2 separate regions of the Homo sapiens genome follow, and region 2 is reported to be linked to region 1. Evidence: microRNA targets listed by miRTarBase, many of them from high-throughput screens and not tested one by one. Region 1 holds a microRNA gene; the other region holds the end of a gene's coding sequence.

Region 1 (3,394 bases):
CTGGACACGTGCCTCTTCAGCTAAGGCCTCAACCAACCCTCGGAGGGCGTTCAGGGCAGGGGTCCTCCCAGCATGCTGGCATACCTTGGTCGTTGGCTTGTGACGTCTCTGACACGTTGACGGCTAGCTGGCTGCTGAAGGAGTTGACGCCCATCATGCCCGTGTGTGCAGGGTTGTTGCCCAGGGTGGGGATCTGGTTGTGATTGCGGGGAACGCTGTACAGCGCCTCGGCGATGTCCGCCGCTCGCTTCAAGATGATCTCCTGCAGCAGGAGCAAGTGGGAGCCGGCCTGTCACCCCAGGCCCGGCCCAGCTGGCCGCACTCTCGGGGGCCCACCATGGTGGCATCCCACTGTCCCTTGCCCAGACCATGACCAAATCTATTTCTTAATGGGCAAAGAGCTTCCCCTAGAAAATCATTTACTGACGCTTTTGAAAGTGTGCAATATCTGGCTGGGCACGGTGGCTCACTCCTGTAATCCCAGCATTTTGGGAGGTCAAGGCAGGCGGATCATCTGAGGTCAGGAGTTCAAGACCAGCCTGGCCAACATGGCGAAATCCCATCTCTAATGAAAATACAAAAATTAGCCGGGTGTGTTGGCAAACGCCTGTAATCCCAGCTACTCGGGAGCCTGAGGCAGGAGAATCGCTTGAACCTGGGAGGTGGAGGTTGCAGTGAACCGACACTGCCCTACTGCACTCCAGCCTGGGTGACAGAGCAAGACCCTGTCTAAAAAAAAAAAAAAAAAAAGGGAGCAACATTTGCTGTGTTCTGTCCTGCATGCTGTGGGGCGCCCATCCAGCCCTCCCTGGTTCCCAGCGGCACCAACACCGTCCACCCGCCACTGCACACTGCAGATGGGTTTCAAGGCTGTGCACTCCCGCTGTGACAAGTTTTTTCTGCTTTTGGGTCCTGACACCAACTCATCATTTCTACGTGAACCTAGCGTGAGGGCAAGGATGGGAAGCCATTCTCACATCAGACTCCTGTGGAGTCGCTGGAAAAGCATGCTTATGTCCAGAAAGCCCACACTGGAGCCACGCCGGCTGCCCACGGGTTCTGGCATGGGGGGGAGGATGGGCGAGGGGAGCCGCCCTCCACCTACCTGGTTGTTGTGAGGCATTCCGTATAAGGCTTCCACCAGGTCCGCCGCCCGCTTCAGTAACACCTCCTAAAGGAAGAGCAGACAGGAGGTGATTCATGGGAGGAACCGGCCAGTTATCACTGCCCTTCAGTACCAGTTCCGTCTGCGGGTGTGGAGACCAGTCCCCACCCACAGCGACCCGTCCTGGCCCTGCCGTGCACTTCGAAGGCAGGCACAGACAGGAAGGCACGTGCGTGCTGACAACACTGTTTGTGGCCTTTACAAGGAGGCTGAATAAAAGCGTTTTCTGTGGCTCCTCCATCCGGTTGGGCTCACAGAGGTGCACGGACAAGCGGGAGGGCCGGCGGAGAACGAGCCCAATCCGTGCCTGAGGTTTAATGACGGAGTCTTATGGGTATTAAACAAATACACACATGGCGGAGATATGAAAGGCCCAGGCACCACATTTGCCTGTTAATTCCTAGCACTTTAGTGGTGAAGAACAATAAGTAATTTTCCATATCTTAATTAAACTGGCAGAGTCCTTAAAGACAACATCTCACCCCTAATTCACGCCCCAAATTTGCAAGTGAGTTCAGTGCTTATTCCTCTTTATTTTGAACAATAAAGTGAATTAACTTGGGTTAATCTAGTTCTTTCATAATGACATTAAGAAATTTTTCAATTAACCTCTTTGACTGCATGTTGTAAAGGACTTCATAAATGCCTTCACATTCCGAGAGTGTGCGCGCTGTGCCTGGGGGCTTGGATGCACCGAGTTTTGTCTTATCCACGTCTGCACGCCTACCTCCAGTTTACGATTGTGCGGATTAATCCAGAGTTTAGTTAATTTTAAATACAAATGGGGGCTTACGTTTTAACTTTCTCTACCTTGAGCTGTAATAAAACGGAGCTGAGCTTTTTAATAAGCCGAGGCCAGGCCCAAACCCCTCCCCAGCATGGAAGACGGGCAGAGAGTTTCTTTCCAACTCCATTCAGCCAGGACAGTGCTAGCACAGAGGTGAAGAGAAAAATTCCCTGGGTGGCTGGAGCACAGTGGCCTCCTGCGGACCCCAGGCCCGGTCTAGGAGAGCTCTGCGGTCTAGGAGAGCTCTGCTGGTCCACCTTTTAGGTGTGGAGGTGTGTCTACATCTGGGCACCTCTTGTTAACCTGAGACCCCAAAGGTGACTGGACAAAAAGTAAGGCAGGTGGCCTTCGCTCCTGGGCCTGTGGCTGTGGCCTTCCCAGAGAGCTCTGTGGTGCCTCACAGACACACCAGCTTATGATTTCTGCAGATTCACATAAGCAGATTTCAGCCTGAACCTCTTAATGCAAATACAGTGCAGTCGGCTGGTGGGAAGCAGGCCCGTAATGACTCCACTGTTAAATCTGTGTTACATCTGAGAAGGCAACGACTGCCTTCCAAGGACTCACTCGCCTCATTGTTTCCCCATCTCCCCCAACATGCCGACTCTGGACCCTTTATTTATCAAGATTAATCACTACGGGCATCACTTTTTGTGCGTGCCATACGTTCCCAGGAACAGCACTTAATCCAGAAAGTTCCCGGATGGGTGGCTCTGACAATGGGCATTTACCTCTGAAATTGGTGCCGACGCTTGATGTTGCATGCATCTAGTTTGCATACAAATAAAGAATTAGACTTGTCATGAAGCAGGTATAATCAATGAAAGGCCCAGCTGTCTTAATCAGGTTTCGTTAGCCTGAGCAGCTCTCTGTGAGCAAGATAAAGTGTTTTTCAGAGGTATTAATAATTACTCATAATCTCTCCTATCATATCGCAAGACTTTTTACATGCCTTTCAATTTTAAGCAACGATTAAAGCAATTAAGATTGCTGCATTTACAAGCTATTTTTCATTCCCAGAAAATATCCTACACCTACTTGTCCATATGGTACTTTGCAATTGGAACATAAGGATAGTTTAGGAAAATTACGTATGCTCTTATCCTAATCTGCCTATTACTGGATAGTGTCTTAACTAATGAACCCGACTTTCTGAGCTGCTCTTAAGTGGTGGTCTTGTCATATCAGAGAGACACAAAACGGGTAACCCAATCAGTCAAGGATGCTTTGAACAAGTTTGTTTTGTTACAATATGCCGAGCTTATGCATACTGCCTCATGCTGTGAATACATTAGCACCGAATGGTGTTTGAAAAGCATTTCGATGGAAATTTCTTAGCCACAACCATAAGTGTAATTGGCTGCCTTTCAATAGGACATAACAGACTTCAAGTTAAATGGAAACTATTAAAGCTCAAATGATTTCTGCCGTTGTTTCATGAC
Region 2 (3,394 bases), not on the chromosome of region 1:
CTCGCCACTAAACAGAACCGCAGGTACACACTCACACACGCCAACTACAGCTCCAGTTGTTGCGTTCACAATATCTCACCGTACACCATCAGCATCTTGTGTGTGCATCATCAGCCAAAGCCCCGATCCTCCTACCTGATTGCTGCTTGGAACCAGAGCTGTTTCCAAAAGGAAGGGGTGGTGGCCCTCCTGCTGGGTCCTGTGTCCCAGCTCTGACCCCAGAGCCACAGAACCCTGGTCACACTGACTTCAAATTCCCCAGGGATCCTGGCTCATGAGCTCTCTCTCTCTCTTCCTCTCTCTCTCTCTCTTCCTCTCTCTCTCTCTCTGTCTTCCTTTCTCTCTCTCTCTCTCTCTCTGCCTTCCTGTCTTTCTTTCTCCCTCTCTCTCTCTGCCTTCCTCTCTCTGTCTTCCTTTCTTTCCTCTGTCTTCCTTTCTTTCTCTCTCTCTTTCTCTCTCCCTCTCTCTCTCTCTCTCTCCCTCTCTCTCTTTCTCTCTCCCTCTCCCTCTCTCGCCTAGCCTGGGGTTCTCAGGGAAGAGGGAATGTAACTGGGAGCAAAGTACCCCATACTAATTATTTTATCATTTTAGTGTAACCAGTGCCTTCTGCAAGAAGGAGATGGTAGAGTTTTCAAGAATCAGACTAAGTCTGCCCAAGTTTAAATCAGGATATTTGGGGGAAGGATTAGGGTTGGGGTGGCTATGCCATATGAGCTGGTGCCTTTGGAAAGCCAAGAACTGTGAAATGTTAAAGGGGGGATGGGCACCTGTGAACCGCCAGGAGACAGGACCATAGAGGAGGCTGAGGCTGAGGCTGAGGCTGAGCCTGATCCGCACTCCTCCCCATAGACTCGCCAGCAGCCCTGGGCTTGAGTGCAGGATGCAGCACTGGAAGTAGAGCAGAAGAGCTGGCAGACTGAAGACACATTTCTAGTGGGGAGAGCAGGGATGGGGGTTAGGAGCCCAGACCCCTCCAGCCCCAGGAGGGCACCCAATTTGCCAGGCAATTCACAACGGCGGTGCCAGCCGCCCCCACCAGCAGCGTCACTGGCTGCATGGGAGCCGCGAGAGGTAGACATTGAGCAGAAGCGACACTGAGCTGACACAGGTGCCTGCTGTGTATACAGACGTCTGGGCCCTGGGGCAGCCTGGCTGAAATTGCTGGGACCGGCCTTGATGGCAGCCTATGGGGGCTCAGTGGCCACGTGGGCAGCCCCACACAGCAGGTGTGGGCCTGGGCCAGGGAGTCGGGGTTTTCCAGGATGCAGGAAAGCAGTGCCCAGGCCAAGGTTCAGCAGCAGGAGGGCCTGAGCAGGCTTTAGGGGCCCCAGAAGGGCCAAGTCCTGCCAACCTCAGGGGACTACCCAGGAGGAGGTTATGGGCACAAACTGAGCAGCAGGGGAAAGGGAAGAGAATACAACAGTTGGAGCCAAACTTCCAGGAACCCCTAGAACCCTGGAATCTCAGCTCTATGCCTCTGGGAGCCAAAAAGGATAAAAGGGTCCTGGCAGAGCTGGGGTTATGGGGAGCCCAATCAGTAACCTTTTGGCAGGAGAGGGAGGTGGGTTGTCCCTAGGACACCCAGTTTGAGTGGGTTGTCCCTGGGACACGCAGTGCAAGGCAAACCAGCTGCACCTCTCCGTGGAGTAGGGATCCCTTCCCAGCCCACCCAGAGAGGCTCCTTTAAGAGCCCCTCCTTTCCAGCCCACCCAGACCCCCTCTCCCAGGCTGTGTGAAAGGTGTGGGTCACAGGACACTCGGAGGGACCCTTAGGCCTGAAGAGCCTCAATGGGCCAAACTGCAGGACATCTTGGGAGTCAAAGACTCACACCAATCTCAGCTAGGGGGACCCCTCCAATAACAGAAGGAAGACGGAGCCCAGAGAGGGCAAGCAACCAGCTCAGGGGCTCACAGCCAGCCCAGCTGAGCCAGAGCCCAAGGCTGCAGCCTCCCAAGGGAGGGCATGAGGCAGGGCTCCGGGAAGAGGAAGCCCTGGCCTCCAGGGCCACAGGGAAATGGTGAGGACACTGAGGACAACGGGGGTTGGGGACAATGGACAGCTGCAGGACAGACCGTCAGCACCAGACCCCACCCCCGAGGGCTGTGGACAGAGACGGCGTAACATGAGCCCGGGGATGTGCTCTCACTCCCAGAAAGTGGCCATCTTGCCATAAGAGCGCCAACCCCAAAATGGTGACCCAAACCACAGGAAGGGCGGGCACAAATGCCACTCACACCTCCACAAGACAGCCCAGAGGCTGTGCCTGCCAGCGGCGCTTGGTGCCGAGGCTGGGGCTGCCCCCTTGAGGGCCTGCCTAGCTCGCTGTGAAGCCTGGGGACGCAGGAGGGTGGTCGACTTTGCCCAAACGCTTCAGCCCCGGGCAAGCCTGCCCCCAGGATGACACAAACATGAACCCTGACTTGGGCTTGCGGTCGCAGGCCCGTGGGAGGCAGCAGTGGCTGCACCGAGATCCCCGGACCTCACCCCGTCGCAGCTCAGGGAGCCCCCCGGGCTCGGGCAGGATCCCTCCCCGCTCTGGTCGGACACTGCTGGACAGACACGGGAGGGAAAAAGCAGGAAAACGCCTGTGTCGGGGAGAGGGCAGCCCCCTCCCGTCCCCGCAGGCAGCCTGATTGGGCCCCCCGCTCCCTGCTCTGAGCACAGCCCACCCCTCAGGGCACCGACTCGAACTTGGGGGGCCCACGCGCCCAGCTGAGCGCCGGCAGCGGCCGCTCGTGGTCTTTGTCCGACTCGGGCTGGCTCTGGGCCCGCTCGGGCTTGGGGTTGGCGGCGGGCGGGTCGGGCTGCTGCACTGACATGGTTCTGCGCAGGTGGTTGCGCTTCCGCAGGAACTCTGGCTGCGCGTGCAGCCCGAAGCTGCCCTTGCGCAGGATCATGCGCGAGTTGTTCTTCTTTGGGCGTGAGCGGTGGCTGGCCTCCAGCGCGGCCAGGTGTGCGGCGTAGCCCTCGCTCAGGAACTGCGGAGGGCAGGGGAGGGCAGGGGAGGGCAGGGCAGGGCAGCAGCGCAGGGGGAAGAAGGGAGGGGAGGGGGAAGAGGGGAGGGGAGGGGAGGGGAGGGAGAAGAAGGGAAGCGGAAGAAGGGAAGGGAGAGGAGGGGAGGGGAAGGGACAGGCATCAGGCGGAGGGGTGGGGCAGGCCCCTTATCCTGATCCTGTCCCCATCATTTCCCGGGAACACTCTACGGAGGCACCTCCAGCTTCTCCAAGGAACCCTGGGGAAGTCGGGAGCTCTTTACTGTTCCAGGGTCCCCATCCTGCTTTGGACAACCATGCATCTCTACCTGTACCCATGGGTCACACCAGAGTTCTCTGGATTTTCTTTCCTATTTTATTTTAATTAATTAATTTATTTATTTGAGAAAGGGTCTCGCTG

Evidence for each region. The annotated mature microRNA hsa-miR-4297 reads UGCCUUCCUGUCUGUG and lies in region 1 at 1,318-1,333, opposite strand. An mRNA with a match to its seed (bases 2 to 7 or 8) in the 3' UTR can be bound and repressed. Matches are read on the target gene's strand: a 7mer-m8 pairs with bases 2 to 8, a 7mer-A1 pairs with bases 2 to 7 and ends in A, and an 8mer does both.
Region 2: the mRNA of PITPNM3 is a reported target of hsa-miR-4297. Seed matches in the 3' UTR shown: 7mer-A1 at 601-607, 8mer at 393-400 and 8mer at 359-366.

What each region holds. Positions count from the first base shown.
Region 1 is chr10:129,842,032-129,845,425 of GRCh38, forward strand. It overlaps MIR4297 (microRNA 4297), which reads right to left and starts at 1,343; the gene lies at 1,268-1,343. It overlaps EBF3 (EBF transcription factor 3), which reads right to left. Exons shown (of 17, transcript NM_001375380.1): 12 at 1,106-1,171; 13 at 85-262.
Region 2 is chr17:6,452,665-6,456,058 of GRCh38, forward strand. PITPNM3 (PITPNM family member 3) reads right to left here. Exons shown (of 20, transcript NM_031220.4): 20 at 1-2,979. The coding sequence ends at 2,674. Among named protein-coding and RNA genes, the nearest start is that of PIMREG, 9.9 kb to the left of the region's middle. RefSeq lists an enhancer at 1,137-1,855 and silencers at 2,425-2,554, 2,575-2,704.